Linked DNA regions of Homo sapiens. The protein of the gene in region 1 purifies or fractionates together with the protein of each later gene. This does not show direct contact. Each region holds a gene or a part of one and is shown in the gene's direction. Other genes may lie near its edges.

The links.
Region 2: the proteins of CPSF4L (region 1) and WDR33 purify together in Homo sapiens (affinity purification with mass spectrometry; 3 studies listed by BioGRID and IntAct, with this or other methods). This does not show direct contact.
Region 3: the proteins of CPSF4L (region 1) and CCNG1 purify together in Homo sapiens (affinity purification with mass spectrometry; 3 studies listed by BioGRID and IntAct, with this or other methods). This does not show direct contact.

Annotation. Positions count from the first base shown.
Region 1 is NC_000017.11:73,255,231-73,258,981, reverse strand, and holds part of CPSF4L (putative cleavage and polyadenylation specificity factor subunit 4-like protein), read left to right. Parts: intron 1-1,148; coding exon 1,149-1,301; intron 1,302-3,751.
Region 2 is NC_000002.12:127,700,480-127,703,275, reverse strand, and holds the end of WDR33 (pre-mRNA 3' end processing protein WDR33), read left to right. Parts: 3' UTR 1-1,099; coding exon of another isoform or gene 1,100-1,747; 3' UTR 1,748-2,249; downstream 2,250-2,796. Other genes in the region: SFT2D3 (vesicle transport protein SFT2C), read right to left, coding at 1,100-1,747. UniProt on the Homo sapiens protein: Essential for both cleavage and polyadenylation of pre-mRNA 3' ends.
Region 3 is NC_000005.10:163,435,605-163,439,355, forward strand, and holds the start of CCNG1 (cyclin-G1), read left to right. Parts: upstream 1-1,990; 5' UTR 1,991-2,200; intron 2,201-3,652; coding exon 3,653-3,751. UniProt on the Homo sapiens protein: May play a role in growth regulation. Is associated with G2/M phase arrest in response to DNA damage. May be an intermediate by which p53 mediates its role as an inhibitor of cellular proliferation.

The DNA of each region.
Region 1 (3,751 bases):
GATAAAGCAGTTAAATGTAACATTTCCATGGAATATTCCTTATAAATCATTACAAAGTTGGCTCTTCTGTCACCCTGTTAGGTCTCTGGAATCGGGAAGCATAACATTTGATGTTTTTAAAGATGGGAATTCAACACACCCTTACTGAGCACTTACTATGTGCCAGGGGCTGGGCTGGGTGTGGGGATTCTGGGCTGGAAAGCCTGGCCCCGCTCCCTGGCAGGACGAGAGGGGGTGTTAGGCACTCTGGGAATGAAAAGGAGGCAGCTGTTCTGAGCCCAGGTACTTCCCTGGAGAAGGGCATGGCACTCCAGGCAGATGGGAAGGATGGGCAAAGGTGTGGTAGTGGGAACAGCTGTGCTTTAAGAAGAGCTTGCCCTGGCCAGTCACGGTGGCTCAAGCCTGTAATCCCAGCACTTTGGGAGGCTGAGGCGGATGGATCACCTGAGATCAGGAGTTCGAGACCAGCCTGGCCAACATGGTGAAACCCCGTCTCTACTAAAAATAAAAAAAATAGCCGGGTGTAGTTGCAGGTGTAATCCCAGCTACTTGGGAGGCTGAGGCAGGAGGATCACTTGAACCTGGGAGGTGGAGGTTGCAGTGAGCTGAGACCGTGCCATTGCTCTCTAGCATGGGCAACAGAGCGAGACGCCATCTCAAAAACAAGAGCTTGGCTGGGCGCGGTGGCTCACGCCTGTAATCCCAGCACTTTGGGAGGCCGAGGTGGGCAGATCACAAGGTCAGGAGATCGAGACCATCCTGGCTAACACGGTGAAACCCTGTCTCTACTAAAAAATACAAAAAATTAGCAGGGCGTGGTGGCTGGCGCCTGTAGTCCCAGCTACTCAGGAAATGGAGGCAGGAGAATGGCGTGAACCCAGGAGGCGGAGCTTGCAGTGAGCCAAGATCGCGCCGCTGCACTCCAACCTGGGCGACAGAGCGAGATTCTGTCTCAAAAAAAAAAAAAAAGCTCTCCCTTCATGCTGCCTCGGCTCCCAGTTCCAGCCCCTACAGGGTCCAGGTGAAGGGATAAGGGGACAGCCGCTGGGGACTGAGTCAGGTACCCTCCTGGGGAATCCCCTGGAGGGCTGAGCTGGGCCCAGGCTGTGGATGAGGGGCCTCCCAGCCAGGTGCTCTGGCATCTCCAGGGAAACTCTGCCCCTTCCGACATGACCGAGGGGAGAAGATGGTGGTATGCAAGCACTGGCTCCGGGGGCTCTGCAAGAAGGGTGATCACTGCAAGTTCCTGCACCAGTATGACCTCACCAGGATGCCTGAGTGCTACTTCTACTCCAAGTTTGGTAAGGCCTCTTCCTGGCTCGGTGCCTCACCCTGGAGGGTGGCAGTGTGGGCTGTGAGATGGGAAGGTTTCTAGAGGAGCGGGCACGCAGAGGAGGCTGGACATGTCCCTGGAGGCCAGAGAGACCTGTCTGAGTCTCAGGTGTCTGTTCTCCAAACCCCTAGACAAGCAGAAGTGCACCCTGAAGTCCCTGCCCTTTACTGCCCCCTGGATCAAGGTGCATACCAGATACCCCCAAAAGGGAAGAAGGGATTGTTTCTCTCCCCATTCTTGGTTCATCACACACCCAGCCTGACTATATTGAAATGTCTCAAATGAGCCATCTCTCAGGCCCCGGCTAGAACTTCTCGAATATCAGGCCTTCAGAGCCACATTCACGATGCCTGCTGTACCCTCAAAGCCCCAGCACCACTGTCTGCTCTTCCAACGGTCTTGCTATTTTAACTCTTACTTTAGAAGAAACTTTGCATTGTTTCCATAAACGGAGAACTAGCATCACTTGTTGGAAATCAAAGGTCATTGTAAACATAAATCCATGAGGTTCAGAGGTCTAGCACCTAAAGTCATCTTGTGCGGTCAAGCCTGGACCAGCATCTTACCTCCCTCTGGCTTCAAGGCATCCTTTGTCCTTTTATTTATTTTTATATATTTTTTTGAGACAGCGTCTTGCTCTGTCCCCCAGGCTGGAGTGCAGTGGCGTGATCTTGACTCACTGCAATCTCCACCTCCCGGGTTCAAGCCATTCTCCTGCCTCAGCCTCCTGAGTAGCTGGGATTACAGGTACCCACCAACATGCCCGGCTAATTTTTATATTTTTAGTAGAGACGGGGTTTTGCCACGTTGGCCAGGCTGGTCTTGAACTCCTGACCTCAGGTGATCCACCTGCCTTGGCCTCCCTAAGTGCTGGGATTATTGGTGTGAGCTGCGGTGCCCGGCCTCCTTTGTCCTTTTAATCAAGGGACTGTTTATGGGGCAGCTGCAGCCACTTTCCCGCTTACTTAAGAAAGGAATTTGTAAATGTGCTTCAGGTCTCACCCTTCACAATACGATTCTACAGCTCAGAGCTTTTCGGAGCTGGAAGGAGCCTTACGGATTATCTAGTCCAGTGGTTTTCCAACTGTATTCCATAAAGAGTGACCTACAAAGAGAGAGCTGGCAGAATCCCCTGGATGCCCCTGACTCAGGAGGCTTGGCTTCCAAATGTGGCTGCAGCCAGCTTCAGGGCCCCCCAAGCGGCTGCTCCTCATTAGTGCCAATGGGAGGGTCCTGGGTACCTGAGAAGGAGGCAAAGCATTGCCTAGGCCAGTCAGAGCCCCACCCAGGCTAATATTCCATTTCCTGCCTGCTCCTGGGAGGCAAAGGCATGGCAGTTCCTGAGAGCTGCCCCCATGTCTCCCCTGAAAGGACAATGTTTATCCAAGTTCCCCTTGGTCACTGCCTAGCATTCTGTGACTTTAGTAATAAAATGCCACCTACTTAGTTATTCCCTCAATAGCCCTCGGTGTTTGTTTGGGGATCAGGTGCTCCTGGGCATGGATACAGGAACAGGACCAGGTCCCCCTCCGCCCCCAGATAACTCCAATTAGTAGAGGACAGACTTGTAAGCCCATGATTACAAGATGTAATCTACTGTTCTTACAGTAAATGAATGCATATGGCTTTCGAATATCAAAGTGATGATCACTCTAATTGGAATCAGAGTGTTGTTGGGGAGGTGTAGGAGTGGGACAGAGTCACTGGAAGGGACTGGTGTCCGGGGTCTTCAGCCCAGTACCCCCGTCTCTGAAAGGCGGATTGAAGGCTGAGGTGCTGCTGCCACCTGCTGGCCAGGCCAGGAATGCAGAGACGTGCACGCAGCAGAACGGCAACCAGTGTAGATGACTTTCTGTTATCTCCATCCATCAAATGCTGGCCAGCATCACCTAGGGGGTGATGTCACTTTGATTCATTAGAAAGCTCAAGCCCAGAGTCAGCACTCTGCCCAGTGCTGTATACTGACAATGAACAAATGAACCCTTCATGAACGTGAGGAAGCTGAATGAAATGGATGTGGCCTTTTCCCCTCTCTGAGCCCTGGCGTTCTCTGTGAAATGAGAGGGCTGGGAAAGAATGGTGGTTTTAAACTCTTAGGAATCAGGGGTACTCTCCTTTTTTTTTTTTTTTTTTCTTTTTTTGGAGACAGAGTCTCGCACTGTTGCCCAGGCTGGAATGGAATGGCACAATCTCGACTCACTGCAACCTCTGCCTCCCAGGTTCAAGCGATTCTCCCACCACAGCCTCCTGAATAACTGGGACTACAGGCACGTGCCACCATACCTGGCTAATTTTTGTATTTTTAGTAGAGATGGGGTTTCACCATGTTGGCCAGTCTGGTCTCAAACTCCTGACCTCAGGTGATCCTAAGGATCACCACCTCGGCTTCACAAAGTGCTGGGATTACAGGCATGAGCC
Region 2 (2,796 bases), on another chromosome or scaffold:
CAGGTTCTGACTGCATTGATCTGAGGTGTGGCTCTTCAAGTAACTGATGTGCAGTCAAGCGCGAGGACCACTGGCACACAATGTTTAAATTCTAAATATATTTTACTTCCTAGTGTATTGCTACTGACAAAACGTAGTTTTCTGGACTCATCAGAATGTTAGGCTCATACCTTCTGGCAATAAATTAAGGTAGTTAAAAGTAACTGCTGAACCTAAAATGAAGGCAGCAGCAATTAGATATAAAAAAATCTTAAGATCAGCCTGCAAATTGTAAACTAGTTTACAAAGCAGGCTATACAATGAGGAATAATTCGAGCTTGTAGAAATCCATGGTTTCCACCAGATACAGGTATTCCGGATCTAGAATTATCTTTCTATTTGCAGGATTTCCGAAGAGACCGTTAAGCATCTACGCGCCCCTTCCTGGATCCCATGCTTCTTGGGGCAGGAAATTTCTTTTGGTCCGTCGCTTTCGTCGTGAAATACACAACTAATTTTCCTTTCATGTTATAAGGCACCATATTTATGATTTTGTTAACTGAAGAAAAAACCCGAGATAAACCATCTTAAGTACTTTTAAAAGTCCAGTGGCTGAATTCGGTGTTTAATCTGATACCCTTCTGGATTCGCTGACACTGGAGAGAATAATTTCCAAGTCTTAGTATAGCCAAAACAAAAAACTACCGTCGCTAAGCTACATCTACCACTGGATTTTAAAATGACAAAACAGCCTGAGAAAAATCACAAGAGCAGCTAACTCGAAGAAAAATCCTTTTTCTTTACTCAGCCGAACCTAAGACCACAGTTACTTCGAAAGCAACTTCTAATAACCGTCTCACATCCTGTCACCAGTTCAATGACAAAATCTCAGTTTTCAGAGCGTGTGCCAAGTCCAGCACAAAAAGCTGACATCGAGGAGCTCCCAACGCTGCTGTCGCCTCCGCTGGCAGCAGCCGCTCCCGGATTAGACTCGCAGGCTGTTAGGGCAGGGCCTTCGCCACGGGCTTCCGCACAGCGGCGTGCAGTCCTCAGCTCGGCCGGCGCGGTCTCCGACGGCGCTGGCTCCGCGTACTTCCCCAGCGGCGAGGGCGCGAGGTCCTCACACGGGCAGCACCTTGGCGAGGCCGGCGCCGCGGCCCAGGCGACCCAGTGCGAGGCGCAGCGCGGTGCCGCCGCCCCAGGGCAGCAGCCCAACCAGCGCGGCCAGCAGCGCGGCCACCTGCGCGCCCGCGCCCAGCACCGTGAGCAGCGTGCTGCGAAGGCCCAGCGCGGCGAACAGCGTGGCGCCCAGCGCTGCCATGTAGAGCAGCGCGGGCCGGGACGGCGCTTCTTCGCAGCGCAGCAGGCGTCCGCACGCCGCGCCGCCCCGCAGCAGCGCGCTTCCCGCCAACGCCAGCGCCGAGCCCAGTGACCAGAGCAGCGCGAACTTGCGCGCGCGCAGCAGCAACACCGGTGCGTAGAGCGCGGCTAGGCCGAAACACAGTGCAGCCAGCAGCAGGCACCCGCCGCCCGCCGCCAGCCGCTGCCCGCGCGTCACGCTCGGGAGGCACGTCAGGCCGGCCGCTGCCGACTCCGCAGGGCTCCGCGCCCACGTCCAGCGCAAGCCCGCGCGGCCCAGCCACTCCTCCGCCGGCCGGTCCCCGGGCTCCTCCGCCTTCTCCGCGGCGAGCAGCGGCTCCGCGGCCGCCGGGCCGCCAGCTTTCCCCTGCGCCAGGTACTCCTGCAGCTGGCGGTGGAGGTCCGCCATCTTGGACAAGGCGGTGGCAGAAAGGAAAAGCTGCGGCTCACTTCCGGCCCTCCGCTGAAGCGGTTCGGTCTTCGGGCGGCAATTGGTCGGCGACGGCGAAAGGGGCAGGGCCTGCGGCGCTCGCGGAAGTGCCGCGGTGCCTGCTCTGCGGACTTTTGTGGTGTCCCCAAGTACCGTGGTCGCAGGTGCTGCCTGTCCGCTTGCAGTCGCCCTCCCAGCGCCTGACCCTCTTCCTTGTTCGGAGTAGGCGCCCTTGCGGTCTGGCTAAGTCCTGCCAGCATTAATAGTTGGAAGGCAGGGGTGGGTGTGGTTCTAAAGGGGCACAAGAAGTGACCCTTTTGCTGACGGAAATGTCTTATGGCCTCACTGCGTCTACCGTGGCGGTGATATTGTGCTAGTTTTGCAACATGGAGGAATGGGTAAAGGGTACACAGAATCTCTCTTGTTTCTTACAACTGAACACAAACAGTGATCTCAAAATAAAAATTTAATTTTTAAAAAAGTTCAGACCTGTGTAACTCAGGTGGGTTTTTTGGGGAAAGTTGCGTTCTGATTAGTTACCTCACTTGTAGTAATAGTGACCATCCTGATCATTTACCATGGGGTTGATAAAGGAAGGGTTGACACCCAGCACCCTCAACCTGCTTCTCTATTCTGTTCTCAGTTTCGGCCACAGGCCTGGCAACATCCTTGACTCCTTCGCGCCCCTTGTCCAAGACTCGGTGCTGCTGTCCCATGTGTTTGGTGTCACTCTCGTGCTCTGGACAGCGCCACGCCCAGGTGTCCTGACTCATCGTCACATCACTGTGACAAGCTGGCTCGCACGCAGGTCAATCCTGATCTGTTCCCAGGCCGCACCCACGTGCCCTGCTGTTTCTCAGAGCCTCCTAGAGGGTGTTTGCTTGTGGTTCCTCTCACAGGTCAGATTCCTCCAGATTCTTCCAGCTGCCTCCACAGCTCCCCTCACCACCTTGGCTTCCCCTGGGTGGCCCTGTGTCCTTTGTCCTCTGCCCTAGGTGGATGTAAGGTTAACGGCTTCCTGCTGTTTG
Region 3 (3,751 bases), on another chromosome or scaffold:
AGAAAAGAAAATGTGATTAAATAACTTGCTGAAAGTCACATAACAAGTTATGAGCTATTCCTGGATATGAATATAAGTTTATTTTATTCTAAAGTCTATGTGTTTATATTGCCCACAGGTTACATGTTCTACAAGGACGGGTACCAGTCTAATTTGTTCTCCACTGGCCTATGCTATGTGTTCAATAAATATTAGTTAATTTATTCGTGCTTTTGATTGCTATAAAGAATTTTTTTTTTTTTAGACCAAGTCTTGCTCTGTTGCCCAGGCTGGAGTGCAGTGGCACCATCTCGGCTCACTGCAACCTCTACCTCCCAGGTTCAAGCGATTCTCCTGCCTCAGCCTCCCGAGTAGCTGGGATTACAGGCACGTGCCACCATGCCCAGCTAATTTTTGTATTTTCAGTAGAGACGGGGTTTCACCATGTTGGCCAGGTTGGTCTCAAACTCCTGACCTCAGGTAATCCACCCGCCTCTGCCTCCCAAAGTGCTGGGATTATAGGTGTGGGCCACCGCGCCCAGCCTGCCATAAAGATTTTATGATTTTTTAGCCATTTTTTTTAAAAATTGTGCATATACATTCCTAATTTTAGGAATTAGGAATAATAGGAACTAAAAGCCAAAAGGAGAAACTACATTTATAAACTCACACATTACAGCAAAAAGTATTTTTAAATAAAATCACTTGTTAAAGGTTATAAATTGCCAATTTATATTCACTAGGTAAGCTTTTATTTTCAAAAGGAACAAAGGCCTCTTCCCCATTTGAGCCCCAGTTTCTTAAACTGACCTGATTATGTGGCTAAGGTATTATTGTGAGGTATTGATGTTTTCTCCTGTTTTTCCTTCCCCTTCCTCCCCACCCCTTTTCCCCCTTTCCAGAGTTTTGTTCTGTGGCATTGCCTTGGGTAAGTACACGGCAGGGCAAATAGCAGAGTGACGGCAAATCTTTCAGATTTTCACTTTTTCAAAGTAAGAGAGACCGAACTGGGGCCATGAGAACAGAGACATCCAACTACTGTGTAATTCATAAGAGTTTAGAAATGACTCCTTGTGCACCCTTTTTCAGGCCCTTTTACAAATGGACTTTTCTCACTTGTGATGATCTGGGAGAGTGAGAGTGAGGAGAGTCTAAGAAGAGTTCAGGCTAATTATTTTCCCACTAATCTGGCATAGGAGAGGCTCACAGAGATTAAATTCATTATGGTAAATACAAAGAGTAATACTGCTTTACACTCGGGTCTGTAGACTGAGATTCACACTCACCACAATTATTCCTGTTAACAGTCTGCCACATACCTTTCATTTTAAGCAACTGAAAAATTGTACCAACTTTTCTCTTTAAATTTGCTTTAAAAGCAAATTCAGAAAATTGGTAGAGGGTCAAGAAATTACACAGTCCAACTCCATTATTTGATAAATTGTATAAAAAGCAAACTAAGGCAAGAATCAACTGACTTCCAAAGTTCACGAAGAGAGCACTCTGGAAGTTGATAAACCACCAAACCATATAAATTCCACCACCTCTTTATCTGTAATTAAAAATCAAAGGTTGACTTTTTTTTTTTTAACTACTCACTGTATTTTTAGAAAGATGGGGCAGAACCACTGTAGAACTCCTAAACCCCACAGAACAAACAGTACATTCTGGAATGATACGCCGGCCAATCCGGCTGGCAGCCGATTGACCTGACCCAGGCGAGGGTTGCTGCACCGAGTATTTAGTTTGGCCCCCTACTGAATGAAGACACTTTGTTAAATTCTCCAATGAGAGACGCTTAGAGGTAGGGGCGTGGAAGGGGGCCGGGGAATTTGAGGCCAGATAACGGGAAGTGTGAGCCGATTGGCCGGACTTCTCACTCCACGGCCCAGCCGTTTACGGATCGCGGAGGCCATCCATCAAAAGAATTACACCAATCAGCGGCGAAAATGCCCCCTTCTCGCGAGAAAGCCCCGCCCTCCAATATATTCCTCGTTAGGGCAGGCGCGGCCCCTTCGGCTCCGAGCTGACCCTGATCAGGGCCGAGTTGTCTCGGCGGCGCTGCCGAGGCCTCCACCCAGGACAGTCCCCCTCCCCGGGCCTCTCTCCTCTTGCCTACGAGTCCCCTCTCCTCGTAGGCCTCTCGGATCTGATATCGTGGGGTGAGGTGAGCAGGCCCGGGGAGGGTGGTTACCGCTGAGGAGCTGCAGTCTCTGTCAAGGTGAGTGGGACTGCGCGGGAGTTGACCGCCAGGTGCGGGTGGGGAGCTGGGTTGGGGGCGCGGGGCGAGGAGTAGGTCTGGCCCGCGCCCTTTTCCACACTAAACTCTACCGCTGTTGTGAGCACAAGCCCAGGCTAGTCCGAGGCTGGAGGGGCGGAGCCGGATCCGGCCTCCTGAGGTGCCTTTCGTGTCTGCCGACCCAGTCCCAGGGACTAGCCTGGGGAGGAAGAATGGAACCCCTGCAGTTAGAGGTTCCTCACATGACTAGCTCTGAAGACCTCCTGCCTTCCTGTCTTTAGTTGGTGTGGGAGGGACCTTCCATGTATCCAGGGCTTAGCTTGTGCCCGGGACATGGTTGTGTTATGCACACTTAAATCAATGGAATTCCCAGGTTCATCTTTCAGACTAGGTTAGCAACAACCCACCGCACCCCCCCGCCCCAATACGTGCTCCTAATGTCACCTTTTAAGTTTCCTTTCCTAACAACAATAAAAGTTAAGTAATATTGAGTATTGTGTGCCAAGCACTGTGCTATACTCTTTAAGTGGTGAATCATCTTGTTCAGTCTTCACATTCAGCGACAGATATTGTTACCCTCATTTTATAAATCTAGAAAGAAGCTCAAGCTCATTATTATTGTTCAGTGTTTTTTAAGCGTCTACTGTATGTGCTAAGCTCTTTACGTGATTTCATTTTAACTCACAAATCTGTGAGGTAGGTCATAAACCTTATCCCTACTTTATCAATGTGGAACTAAGTACAATTAAGTAACTTGAACAGTTCATTTTGTTAATATGTGGCAGAATACTTAACTACCATCTGCTTTTCACTTTCGGTATCCTGTCTTACGGTGTTTATTCGTGGTTATCTATTGACAGTGAATAACTTGAACAAGTATTTCTTGAAGATTTGCATTTTATTTTTCTAAAAAGCATGGTTCCGACCGGGCGCGGTGGCTCACGCCTGTAATCCCGGCACTTTGGAAGGCCGAGGCGGGCAGATCACAAGGCCAGGAGACCGAGACCATCCTGGCCAACATGGTGAAACCCCGTCTCTACTAAAAATATAAAAATTAGCTGGGCGCGGTGGCGCATGCCTGTAATCCCAGCTCCTCGGGAGGCTGAGGCAGGAGAATCGCTTGAACCAGGGAGTCGGAGGTTGCAGTGAGCCAAGATCGTGCCACTGTACTCCAGCCTGGCAACAGAGCGAGACTCCTTCTCAAAAAAAAAAAAAAAAAGCATGGTTCCTTCCCTCTAGGAACTCAATTTAGGATGTGACCAACTTGTAGAAGGGAAATAAATAACAGATGGCACTTTGCAATGACTTAGATGCACTAGCCGCATTGGGGGATGGGAGGCTTATAAATCATTTCTTGGCCCAGTGCAAAGATGGCCAAGGAAAGCAGGAAGGACTACTCTTACACTCCTTGCTGGTCTTTTTTTCTATATATAGATGATAGAGGTACTGACAACAACTGACTCTCAGAAACTGCTACACCAGCTGAATGCCCTGTTGGAACAGGAGTCTAGATGTCAGCCAAAGGTCTGTGGT